Linked DNA regions of Homo sapiens. The protein of the gene in region 2 interacts with the protein of the main gene of each other region in a pairwise test. Each region holds a gene or a part of one and is shown on either strand. Other genes may lie near its edges.

The links. Proteins that work in one complex are often made in the same cells at the same time.
Region 1: the proteins of TRIM59 (region 2) and RNFT1 interact in a two-hybrid assay, tested with the Homo sapiens proteins (one large-scale study listed by BioGRID).
Region 3: the proteins of TRIM59 (region 2) and PKNOX1 interact in a two-hybrid assay, tested with the Homo sapiens proteins (one large-scale study listed by BioGRID and IntAct).
Region 4: the proteins of TRIM59 (region 2) and UTP25 interact in a two-hybrid assay, tested with the Homo sapiens proteins (one large-scale study listed by BioGRID).

The regions. Positions count from the first base shown.
Region 1 is NC_000017.11:59,958,241-59,961,740, reverse strand, and holds part of RNFT1 (E3 ubiquitin-protein ligase RNFT1), read left to right. Parts: intron 1-1,572; coding exon 1,573-1,673; intron 1,674-3,296; coding exon 3,297-3,450; intron 3,451-3,500. UniProt on the Homo sapiens protein: E3 ubiquitin-protein ligase that acts in the endoplasmic reticulum (ER)-associated degradation (ERAD) pathway, which targets misfolded proteins that accumulate in the endoplasmic reticulum (ER) for ubiquitination and subsequent proteasome-mediated degradation.
Region 2 is NC_000003.12:160,437,395-160,439,786, forward strand, and holds part of TRIM59 (tripartite motif-containing protein 59), read right to left. Parts: intron 1,793-2,392; 5' UTR 1,790-1,792; coding exon 578-1,789; 3' UTR 1-577. UniProt on the Homo sapiens protein: E3 ubiquitin ligase involved in different processes such as development and immune response. Serves as a negative regulator for innate immune signaling pathways by suppressing RLR-induced activation of IRF3/7 and NF-kappa-B via interaction with adapter ECSIT.
Region 3 is NC_000021.9:42,977,562-42,981,061, forward strand, and holds part of PKNOX1 (homeobox protein PKNOX1), read left to right. Parts: intron 1-3,500. UniProt on the Homo sapiens protein: Activates transcription in the presence of PBX1A and HOXA1.
Region 4 is NC_000001.11:209,834,472-209,837,971, forward strand, and holds part of UTP25 (U3 small nucleolar RNA-associated protein 25 homolog), read left to right. Parts: intron 1-603; coding exon 604-692; intron 693-2,329; coding exon 2,330-2,740; intron 2,741-3,500. UniProt on the Homo sapiens protein: Component of the ribosomal small subunit processome for the biogenesis of ribosomes, functions in pre-ribosomal RNA (pre-rRNA) processing. Essential for embryonic development in part through the regulation of p53 pathway.

The DNA of each region.
Region 1 (3,500 bases), on a different chromosome or scaffold from region 2:
GCTGGGCGTGGTGGCGCTTGCCTGTAGTCCCAGCTACTTGGGAGGCTGAGGCAGGAGAATTGCTTGAACCCGGGAGGCAGAGGTTGCAGTGAGCCAAGATTGTGCCACTGCACTCCAGCCTGGCGACAGAGTGAGACTCCATCTCAAAAAAAAAAAGAGAGAAAATGAAACCCAAGGAATTTTTCCATAACATAAGTTACACGAGCCCGTCATATAAATCATTGGGAAAAAGAGGATGAGTTTCTAAAATTTCACCTTAAGGCAACTTTAAATGGCTATGTCTGTGTAAAGTATCATGCATTCTGACCTGGAAATTTATAGTTAAACCTATCAAACTAGAAAAATCTTAATGATTTAAAATTAGTAAAACTTCATTAAACTTGACTTTAAAAGTGAGATTACAGGCAAGGCACAGTGGCTCATGCCTGTAATCTCAGCACTTTGGGAGGCTGAGATGGGCAGATTGCTTGAGCCCAGGAATTGAAGACGAGCCTGGGCAACATGGCAAAACCCCATCTCTACAAAAAATACAAAAAATTAGCTGGGCGTGGTGGCACGTGCCTGTAATCTCTGCTATCTGGGAGGCTGAGGTGGGAGGATTGCCTGACCCCAGGTGGTTGGGGCTGCAGTGAGTTGTGATCATGCCACTGCACTCCAGTCTGGGTGAAAGAGTGAGACCCAGTCTCAAAAAAGTAAAAAAAAAAAAAGGGAGATTACAACTACTTGGGAGGCTGAGTTGGGAAGAATGCTTGAGCCTAGGAATTCTGAGCAATGTGTCGAGACCCCATATATTAAAAAAGTGAGATTAAAACATTAATTTATTAAATTCTTATAATCTGAGAATTTAAAAAATATAAACCTTGACAAGTGAGTCAAGGTTAAAATGCATTTTGAAATTTTCTTTTGTGGGTGGGTCCATTTTTTTTCTGAGACGGTGTTTTGCTCTGTCACCCGGGCTGGAGTGCAGTGGCGTGATCTTGGCTCACTGCAACCTCTGCCTCCTGGGTTCAAGTGATTCTCGTGCCTCAGCCTCCTGAGTAGCTGGGATTACAGGCACGTGCCACGGCGCCTGGCTAACTTTTGTACTTTTTTTAGTAGAGACAGGTTTCACCATGTTGGGCAGGCTGGTCACAAACTCCTGACCTCAAGCGATCCGCCGACCTTGGCCTCCCAAAGTGCTGGGATTACAAGTGTGAGCCACTGCCCCCGTCCTGGGTGGGTCCTTTATGTCAGCTTGTAGAAGACCTGGCTTCTTTTTTTTTTTTTTAATTTAATTTAATTTTCTTTTTTTTTTTTTTTTTTTGAGAGAAGACTTGGCTTCTTTGAAACATAGGTAATGTTTTTCATACAGTGAAGAAACTTGTATTTTAAACATTTGTTTAATATAAGAGTTCTGTTTGGTCACTAAAGTAGTATAAAACAGTAACTGTGATGATTATGTACAGTTTAACATATTCTATATTAAGATTTAGAAAAATATTCTAAGTTAATAGTCATTAAAGTAAAACAGTTTAATGATATTTAAAATTCTGGCAAAATCAAAGTAACATTATAAAATTGTTTATCTTTCAGGAAAGGTCCTCAAAGATTCAGTGTGCTTGGTTACTGGTATTCTTAGCAGGATCTTCTGTTCTTTTATATTACACCTTTCATTCTCAGTCACTTTATTACAGGTAATTAGAGGTCCAAATACACAATTACATTTTTAATGTAATCATATATTTCATAGCACTTTGTATCTTACTTCACATAGTACTTATTGTATTCAGTTCAGTTCAGTTTTTAACTTTCTCCTTTCATAAGCGAGAGCTTTTTTTTTTTTTTTCTTTTTGAGACGGAGTCTCACTCTCTCGCCCAGCCTGGAGTGCAGTGTCTTGATCTTGGCTCACTGCAACCTTTGCCTCTCAGGTTCAAGCAATTCTCCCGTCTAAGCCTCCTGAGTAGCTGGGATTACAGGCACACGCCACCACGCCTGGCAAATTTTTGTATTTTTAATAGAGACGGAGTTTCACCATGTTGGTCAGACCTCCTGACCTCGTGATCTGCCTGCCTCCACCTCCTAAAGTGCTGGGATTACAGGTGTGAGCCACTGCACCCAGCCTCATAAGTGAGAGCTTTAAGTGACTTACTCAGATTTTGTATCCCCAGTGCCTTGGCACATAACAGATGCTCAATAAATATTTAATTTTTTGATACCTGAGTTTTTGTTTACATATTTCGTATTTTTAAAGTACCATTAGGTTGTTATTATTGGTCGTTGTTTCTGAAAGTAAGAACACTTACTAAATGACAGTAGCTGATAAGTCTCCATGTCAAATGGGAGTATTCTGAATTTTCAGCTTTTATTAGAATATTAGAAGACCTGGTTTCACTGGAGTTGGAGAGATGGGCAAATCTGGGATATAGTTTGGAGGTGGAGCCAGTATCCCTCAGATGGACTGGATTGGATAGGTGGGTGGAGAGAAGCAAGAATGACCTCTGGGTTTTTAGTCTAAGCAGCTGGCTGGATGGTGGTGTCATTTCATTGGGTTGAGGAAGGAACTGATTTTGAGGAGAAAAATCAATAATTTTGTTTTGAACATGTTAAGTTTGAGAGGCTAAGTAGAATTGATAAGAAAGTGGTTCCAAATATATGTCATGAACTCAGGGTAGAGGTTAAGGCAATAAATTTTGGTATCAGGAGCATATGGTTGATATTTAAAAACCACAGGACTGGACAAAACTAACCCAGGAAAGAGAGTGTAGATAGAGAGCCCAGTACTGGACATGACCACAATTAGAAGAGAAACAGCAAAGGAGACTAAGAAGAAACCAGCAGTGAAATATGAGAAATAGAAAAGTGTTGTGTTAAAAGTCTAGAAAGAAAATTATTCAGGGAGGGAAGATGGAAAAAGAGAGTGACCTTGAAATTTAGCCATACAGAGGGAGTTGATGATCTTGACAAGCAATTCATTGAAAGGAAGAGATGGAATCCTGATTGGAATTGGTTAAGAAAAACACAGCAGATGTCTGGTATTGATGAGTTTTTTTCATTTACAGGCTAGAAAGGTGTCAACTATGACAAACCGTGAAGACTTTTTCCTTATTCTATGAAGGGAAGATCTAAAATCCAAACAGGTTTAAAAAGTCTCTTTAAGCAAAATGATCCTCCATTCCATTATTGTGAACTCTGACATCCTGCCAAACTCATATTTTTTACATATCAAAATAAAATATTTGTAGCAAATTAAAACCCTTTATTAATACTTTATCTTTGTATGTTGCTCTGATAAATTTTGATGTTTTTCTTTTGGTAGCTTAATTTTTTTAAATCCTACTTTGGACCATTTGAGCTTCTGGGAAGTATTTTGGATTGTTGGAATTACAGACTTCATTCTGAAATTCTTTTTCATGGGCTTAAAATGCCTTATTTTATTGGTGCCTTCTTTCATCATGCCTTTTAAATCTAAGGTAAGAAACTCACTTATGCTTTATTGGAGTGATGTTATCGAATCACATTA
Region 2 (2,392 bases):
CAAAAGCAATAGTTTTATTTGGAGTGAATGGTGATAAGCATTTAGGGCTCTTAAATCTATCTCAAACACAGGTATGTTTGATCAAAAGATCTTTAAGCCATGCCTTATCACTTTAAGACTTTGTTGCTTGATTTTGAAACCTTTCTATCATCCTTATTCACCCATTCAAAAGCTTCAAGCCACATCAAAATAAAGGTATATGTTCTTTCAGGATTTTGCTATATATATAAAGAACTGTAAAGCCAATTAACTGCAGTATATAATAATGGTAAAAGACAATATTGGTACAAGAATGTTTAAATGTCACAGCAACATTATGTCAACCATCATAAAGCCAATAAAAATGGGATAGTGTATTACTTTTCAAATTGTTACTAGATTCTGTTTCCCAAAGATTTGACTATTTCAGATATAACTTTGACATATCATTGCTAACCAAAAGAAGCAACAAATATAAACATTTGTTTATATTAGTTGCAGCACTAATAAAGCTTAGTTTGCTCTTTATCCATGCTACCCCATTTTTTGTTTAGCAATGTACAGAATAAGCCCATTTAAACAATTCAGGTTGACATTTTCAATGGGAAACTATTTTCCACACAAATTCCTTCAACAAATAGAAAATGTGACACAGTATATTCTTTACCTTATGCAGACTGTTAGATAAACTTTGGTAAACAGATAGAGAGGCTTCAGAAAACCATATTAAAGTGATTTCACTTAAAAAGGTTATGATGTGTTGGTTGAAAAAGAGTATCGACATCAGTATTACTGAAATTAATGTAACTACAACAATGTTTAAAATTTTTAAAAATTCAACTTCCTTTTCATCCTTACCAGGCCAGGAACATGACATCCTTTTTGGAGAAATTTTCATTTTGGGAATGAGAACGTTCTTAATTTGTCCAATTTCTGTTCTGCTCCATTCTTCTTTCAATATTTTGCTTACTCGAGGATAAATTTCAACGGGTTGAACCTCAGGAAGTGGTCTTTGTTTCAAGATCTGTACATGCTGGCGTACATCATCAACTTTTTCAAGAAATTTAAGTGGAGACTCTTCTTGTAAAGATATTGTCAGTGCCATTAATTCAAGCTGCTGCTCTCGTATTTCCTTCATTCTTTCAATTTGTGGAGTATATTCTTGATTAATTAGATTGCCAACATCACAGAGAGCCGTTAGGAAACTTTTTTTTTTCTGTTCTAATGTATCATTAAGCTCCTTAAAATACTGGAGAACAGCTTCCTTATCGCCTTGGATCATTTTCTCAGAATGAGATTTTTGTTCTTTCAGCTTTTCAATAAGATGGGTAAGATCTGTCCAGTGTGTGTCAGTCAACTGTTCAAGCAGTTTTTGAGGAGTGTCCTTTTCTTTCAAATAGGCACTTTGAAGGTCATCTATAGGATGACCATGATGTTGACCTATGGTAAGGCAATGACCACAAACTAATTTTTTATCTAATAGACAGTAAACATTTAATGGTTGCCTGTAATGTTCAGGGCAGGTGACAATATCTGGATGGTCTTCTTGCTGGTACTTTTCAATAATAGCCCTTAGTGCAAAATTAACAGGTAAAGATTCAATGCCAGTTGGAGCAATTTCAGTAATACTTCTGCAATTAGGGCACTTGAGTGGAATTCGTAAAGGTCTCCATATATAAAAGTTACCAGATGCCTGAAGAATGTTTTCCAAACAATTTCTACAAAATGTATGAGAGCATGGCAGTACACGAGGATCTTCAAAAATACTATAACATATGGGACAAGTTAACTCTTCCTCAAAATTGTGCATTTCCTGTCAAGAGAAAAATGTATTTTAAGTTTACATAGAGACACCTGTACATATTATTTAACATTCTAGGCATTAACCTCCAAATTGTTACCATACTGCTTGTCATTTAAAAGAGAACAAGGTATTTTTAAAATGAAGTTTTCTGAGTAATTCATTTCCTAGTATATATAGTGAATAACTGATCACAATTAAGAGTTTATTCCTTAGGGACCAAAATCATCCCAAACAAAGCAATTATCATTAATTTGTAGTAAAATGCTTCAAATTTAAGTTATTTAAATTTGTTGCTATGTGATATGGTTTGGCTGTGTCTCCACCCAAATCTCATCTTGAATTGTAGCTCCCATAATTCCCACATGTTGTGGGAGGGACTCAGCGGTAGATAACTTTAGTCATGGGGGCAGTTCCCCCATACTGTTCTTGTAGTATCACGAGATCTGATGGTTTTGTAAGAGGAAACCCCTTTTGCTTCACTCATTCTCTTTTCTTGTCTGCCGCCATGTGAGACGTGCCTTTCACCTTCTGCCATGATTGTGAGGTCTCCCCAGCCATGTGGAACTGTGAGTCCATTAAACCTCTTTTTCCTTATAAATTACCCAGTCT
Region 3 (3,500 bases), on a different chromosome or scaffold from region 2:
TTTGAGATGGATTTTCACTCTTGTTGCCCAAGCTGGAGAGCAATGGCGTGATCTCGGCTCACTGCAACCTCCACCTCCCGGGTTCAAGCGATTCTCCTGCCTCAGCCTCCGTAGTAGCTGGGAGTACAGGCAGCTGCCACCACATACAGCTAATTTTTTGTATTTTTAGTAGAGACGGGCTCTACTAAATGTTAGCTAGGCTGGGACTTCTGACCTCAGGTGATCCACCTGCCTCAGCCTCTCAAAGTGCTGGGATTACAGGGGTGAGCTGCCGTGCCTGGCTCCAACTTTTCTTCTGCATCTTCCTCACCTCTCTCAGCCTTCATAGAATTGAAGAAAACTTGGGCCTGGTTCTCGATTAGGCTTCAGTTTAAGGGAATGTTGTGGCTGGTTTGATCTAATCAGACCACTCATACTTTCCACATATCACCAATAAGGCTGTTTCACTTTCTTTCCCTCCCTCCCTCTTTTTTTGAGACTATTGCCCAGGTTGGAGTGCAGTGGTATGATCATGGCTCACTGCAACCTCTGCCTCCTGGGTGCAAGCAATTCTCTTGCCTCAACCTCCCGAGTAGCTGGGATAACAGGTGTGCAGCATGTGTCCAGCTAATTTTTGTATTATTAGTAGAGGTAAGGTTTCACCATGTTGACCAGGCTGGTCTCGAACTCCTGACCTCAAGTGATCCGCCCGCCTTGGCCTCCCAAAGTGTTGGGATTACAGGTGTGAGCCAACGGACCTGGCCATTTTCTTATTCATGTGTTCACTGGAGTAGCACTTTTTAATTGCCTTTAAGTTTTCCTTTGTTCTGAGAGGTGATTTAAAATTTCAAAAATTTGTGTATGTATTTTTTTAATTTCAAAAATTGGAAAGAAACTTCTGCTTTGCATTTACAACTTGGCTAACTTGTTTTTTTCTTTTCTTTTCTTTTTTTTTTTTTTTTTGAGATGGAGTCGCTCTGTCGCCCAGGCTAGAGTGCAGTGGCGCGATCTTGGCTCACTGCAACCTCTGCCTCCCGGGTTCAAGTGATTCTCTTGCCTCAGCCTACCAAGTAGTTGGGACTACAGACGTGAGCCACCACGCCCGGCTAATTTTTGTATTTTTAGTAGAGACAGGGTTTCGCCGTATTGGCCAGGCTGGTCTTGAACTCCTGACCTCAAATAATCCACCCACCTTGGCCTCCCAGAGTACTGGGATTACAGGCATGAGCCACCGCACCCAGCCCTTTTTTGTTTTTTTTTAAAGAGATGAAGTCTCCCTATGTTATCCAGGCAGGTCTCAAACTCCTGGCCTCAAGTGGTCCTCCTGCCTCAGCCTCAGGCATGATCCACTGTTCCTGGCCTTGGCTATGTTTTTGAGAGACAGGGTCTCATTCTGTTGCTCAGGTTGGGATGCAGTGGTGAGATCATAGCTCACTGCACTCTTGACCTCTTGGGCTAAAGTGGTTCTCCCACCTCAGCCCCCTGAGTAACTGGGACTACAGGGATGTGCCAGCATGCCCAGCTAATTTTGAAAAAGTTTTGTAGAAGTGAGGTCTCATTATGTTGCCTCGGCTGTCTCTTAAGTTCCTTTCCAGAATGGTGAATCCTTTCAAGCCGCCTTCCTGCCTCGTCCTTCCGAAGTGTTGGGATTACCCATATGAATCACTGTTCCTGACCTGAACATCAAAGATCACTGATCACAGATCCCCGTAACAGACATAATAATGACAAAGTTTGAAATAGTGAAGAATTACCAAAATGTAACACAGACACAAAGTGAGCTCCTGTTTTTGGAAAATTGGCACCAATAGGCTTGCTTTCTTCATACAGGGTTGCCACAGATCTTCAACTTGTGAAAAACATAGTACCTGCTGAGTGCAATAAAGCAAAACACAATAAAAGGTAAAATGAGGTGCTTATAGCCAGGCGCAGTGGCTGACGCCTGTAATCCCAGCACTTTGGGAGGCCGAGGCGGGTGGATCACGAGGTCAGGAGATCGAGACCATCCTGGCTAACACTGTGAAACCCCGTCTCTACTAAATATACAAAGAATTAGCTGGGCGTAGTGGCGGGCACCTGTATTCTCAGCCACTTGGGAGGCTAAGGCAGGAGAATGGCGTGAACCCAGGGGGCGGAGCTTGCAGTGAGCCGAGATCGCGCCACTGCACTCCAGCCTGGGTGACACAGCGAGACTCCATCTCAGAAAAAAAGAAAAAAGAAAAATGAGGTGCTTATAGTCTGTTGAATCTAAAATGCAGCAGTGTGTTATACCACTACAGATGCTCCCAGTGCCTTCTGGCACGCTGCTTTCTTACCCCATCAGTGAAGGATGCTTTTCACTTCAGACATTTAAAAGTGTGCCTTAGAATTGATGAAACATGGTCAGTGAAGTATGACTTGTTTCAAAGATTAACCTTCTGCGCTTATGATCTAAGTGCCAGCAGGTTCTGTGGTAATGATACTGAGTACAATGCATTTTGTTGGGATTCCTGTACTCTATATGTAGTTAACGTTTCTCTGGCAGTAACTTTAGAAAAGTACTACTTGTGAGGCCAGGTGCGGTGGCTCACACCTGTAATCCTAGCGCTTTGGGAGGCCGAGGTGGGTGGATTGCCTGAGGTCAGGAGTTTGAGACCAGCCTGGCCAAGATGGGGCAACCCCTGTCTCTACTAAAAATGCAAAATTAGCTGGGTGTGGTGGCAGGAGCCTGTATCCCCAGCTACTCGGGAGGCTGAGGCAGGAGAATCACTTGAACCAGGAGGTGGAGGTTGCAGTGAGCTGAGATCGCTCCAGTGCACTTCAGGCTGGGCGACAGAGCAAGACTCCATGTCCGAAAAAAGAGAAAAAAAAATACTACTTGTAAATAGCAGAAATAGAAAGGTGCTACTTATGAGAAGTAACATCCTATTTGCGGCTTACACTTTTGTTGCAAATTGTTAAAAGTGTCTGAAACTGTTTAGAAGGACAGCCTGAAACTGCTAAAGTGATGCAAAGTATAGACTCTGGTGGGAGAGGGGGCGTCTTAAATTTTCACGTTTGCTTGGCCTCTGGGGGCCTCTTAACAGCACTTTAAAGGAAATAAATAGATGAAGAAGAGAACAAATTATTTTGAAATACAGTTATTAAAATACTGTATTGAACCAAATTGGTGATAGTCCCATTTATTAGCTTAGTAACCGGATTGAGCTGTGGCTCTGGTAATTCATTTGGGAGTAGTGACGAGATTTTTTGTGACACTCTAATGCTTTGGAAAATACCTGTTGCTGTTCCTGCTAAAACTCCAGGGCTTATTGTCTGCCTTTGTAATTGAAGGAGTGCTACATTTCAGCTAGAAGTTTTTGCCTTTTATCATTCATGTTCACAAATACCAAGTTGATTTACTCTCAGCCTATCCATTTGTAGGAATATATGGTGTCCTTTCTTTACTTCCTCAAATGATTATATTGATGACAAAAGAGACAAGGAAATAAAAACGGCACAGATAGGGGAACCCAAAGCCTAACAGTGTGTGTCCTTGGAGG
Region 4 (3,500 bases), on a different chromosome or scaffold from region 2:
AGATCAATCAGACATGGAACCTGTTCTTAGAGACCTTGCAGTCTGCTAGATAAGACATGTATATATGTATATGTGTTGGAATGGGTGGGTTGGGCAGAGTAGGAGACTTGAGAAAGTGATGACTCTAGGGAACAAGGTGAGCCAACGTTGTGCCTAACACAGTAAGCCTGGGAAGTATTTATTGTGATTCAGTGGGTAACATTAAATTGATAACATTTGGATATGCAAAAATGAAGTGAAGGAGAGGCTGGAATTTTTAGTTGAAGGAAGGAAAAGCACAGAGGCAGAAGAATTTGAGGGCCATATAGTCCAGAAATGATAACGGAGATGCAGGTTGGAGGTATATCCTAAAGTGCTCTGAATTCCAGGCTGAGAAGTTTCTTCAAAAGTTTTCAAGCTGGGAAGTAATATAATTAGAGAAATGTTTTAGGAAAATGAACCTTTCAGAAGTTTTTAAGCTCTGGACTTGGCCAGAGGGTGGGGAAAGTCAATGGAGAAAAGGATGAGTTAACACAATGAAGATCAACATGTCTTTCACAGGGGAAGACCACAAAACCCCTCTGTAGTTGCATAGTGTGCTGACATTTTTTATTTCTGAATTAGATCCATTTCTTCAACATGTGAACAAAGAACTGAAAGAAAAAGCAATTCAGGCTGTTGCCACAAATCCCAAAACTACCCACGAGCTTAAAGTAAGTGTTGCTTGGTCATCCCGGTCACAAATAGAGAAAGCTCTAAATAAAACAGTGGTCTTGGGTTTTAGTGGCCTCCCAGAATGTATGATATACACCTGCAGTAGATGGCTTGATAGGGAAGCAGGGCATAAGGAAGGCTAGAAGAGCCTAGTGGGGCACAGTTGTAGCTAGAAAACGCACCAGGAAGCTGGAGTGTGGGTGCCAGATAATATAATGATGGGTAAGAGTGGATTTGGAGACCAACATCTTCAAGGAGCTATCACATTTTGACCCAAGGCAAGTTCATCTGCTTTTTTGCTATTCACTATTCTAGTCTGCTAGAGGGGGATAATAATACCTATCTCAAAATAGAATAGTTTACTAATACATAGTGTTCAGTAAAACAGTGTTCATTAAAACAGTAGGTACTACTGTTGTTCATTTGTTTGAAATATCTGAGGTAGGTCCACAAATAAATTATCCAGATATTGGGCAGTTTTTGCTTCTTTGTTCTTACCACTGATGCCATTCATGAGAGTTGGTCATCCTTTTTTTAATTGAAATTTTTATTGAGGGAATAATTATAGATATACATGCAGTTGTAAGAAATCATACAAAGACATCTTGTACCCTTTGCCCAGTTTTCCTCAGTGGTGAAATCTTGTAGAACTGTAGTATAATGTCACAGCCAGGAAACTGACATTGATATAATCTACCAGTCTTACTCAGATCTGGTTTTACTCCTGTTCAACTGCATATGCCTGTGCCTATATTTATATACAATTTTATCATGCATAGGTTCCTGTATCTACTCCTGCCATCAAGATGCAGAACATTTCCAGCAAAATACAAATCCTTGTTGCCCTTTTATAACCATATCTGCCTCCCTCTGCACCCTGCCCCACCCCCATTTCTAACCCCTGGTAACCACTAATCTGGTCTCCATTTCTATAATTTTGTCATTTTAAAAATGTTAAATGACTCATACAGCATGTAACCTTTTGAGATTGTTTTTTTTTCACTCAGCATGATTCCCTGGAGAGTCATCCAAGTTATTTCAGCTATCAGTAATTTATTTCTTTTTATTGCTGAGGTTGTCCTATTTTTAGATCAGCAATTTAGCTATAATGCAAAAATTCTTAAACTTGTATCCCACAAAATAGAAAATAGTATTCCTTAGGATTTAAACAAAATGGACAGATTTCTTGTCATAGAACTTGTCAACACCTTTAGTATCGAGTGTACATTGTCAATCTCCCTCAGAGGAATTAAGTTTTGTGATGTTTATCAAGGGTATTTGACCATGGAACCCCTTTGTTTCTAGAATGAATGTTGACTCTTCCCAGAATATATTCCACAGAACAGTGTGGGACAACTGATAGGGTGAAGAGCTCAGATTTGAAGTCAGAAACCTTGGGGTCTAGCCCTCAGCTCCATTTTCTTCTGTGTAAACTTTGTATCATACAACCTCTGTATGAACCTCAGTGCTTCCTAAACTATAACATGAGTATCATGGTAACTACCTTGCAGGGCTGTTGTGAGGATTAAATGAGATGATCTATAAATCATGAAAAAATTCGCTAAATATAGTACTATGTGAATGTAATTTACTGTTATTCATTTCTAATTTGGCTCTTGATCTGTTTCTCCCCTAGTGGCCTATTCTGGGCCAGCTTTTCTTTTCCTCTAAGTTTCAGAAGTTGGAAACATTTAAACCCCCAAAGGATATTGACTTAAAGTCACTTCATCTCCAGAAGCCTCTGGAATCCACCTGGACTAAGACCAACAGCCAGTTCCTATCTGGTCCCCAAAAATCAAGCAGCCCATTCACCCCCCTCCAGAAAGAACTCTTCTTAATTATGAATTCTTACCGGGACCTGTTCTACCCGGAAAGGACTGCTCTGAAGAACGGGGAAGAGATCCGCCATGTGTATTGCCTGCATGTGATAAATCACATCCTCAAAGCCAATGCCCAGGTGCTTGGCAACAATAGCAGACGCCGAAGCCAGAAGTTTGGAGTGGGTGATGATGATGACTTCAGAGACCAAGGGTTAACAAGGCCCAAGGTGAGTCCAGCAGGAAAGCTTTGCTCTCGAGGAGGTGGCTGCAAGGCACTGCCATAGAGGTGCCTGACACTTAGCAGGAACTTGGGTATTTTAATAATTGACTGGCATAATGAATGAGCCCAAATGTGAGCATATTAAGTAGGCCAGGTAGTGTCAGAGCAGCACTGCAGCAGCTTAGTGGGCTGTTTCTGACAGTGGATGTAGCTGGAAACTTGCGAGAAGGAGGCACTTCATGACACTTTCCTTAAAGATAAACCCAGAGTATATAAATAAAACTCCATTATAAATCTCTTCTTTGTGGTTGTCAAAGCTGGATGGGACCTTAATGAGCCTTTTATCCAATCCCTCCATATTACAGCTGTGGACAACCCCAAATTCGTAGAAATTCATAGAGGGCCTTGCTAAAGAGAACCAGGGAAAGAATAGCAGAGATGAGACAAGAACCATAGATTCTCTTCACTAAGCCACATACATACGTCAGCCTTTGAAAGCAAAAATTTACATTTGCCACTGTAAAGTTATTGCTGCTTAAAGTGATGCGTTTGTATTCATAAGTCTAAGCTCTAGTGGATTTGAGGCCTTAACAGGAAATGGCTTTCAATTTTATCTACATTATTCATGATGTTATAGAACCAGGACTTGTCCCCCTGCCCTGAACTGCATCTCTCCGTATTGAAGAAGCCTCATCTTTTTAGAATTTTCTCATTGAGTTTAATAGGATTCTAGAAATTTGATACTAATGTGGCCTTTAGAGATTTCT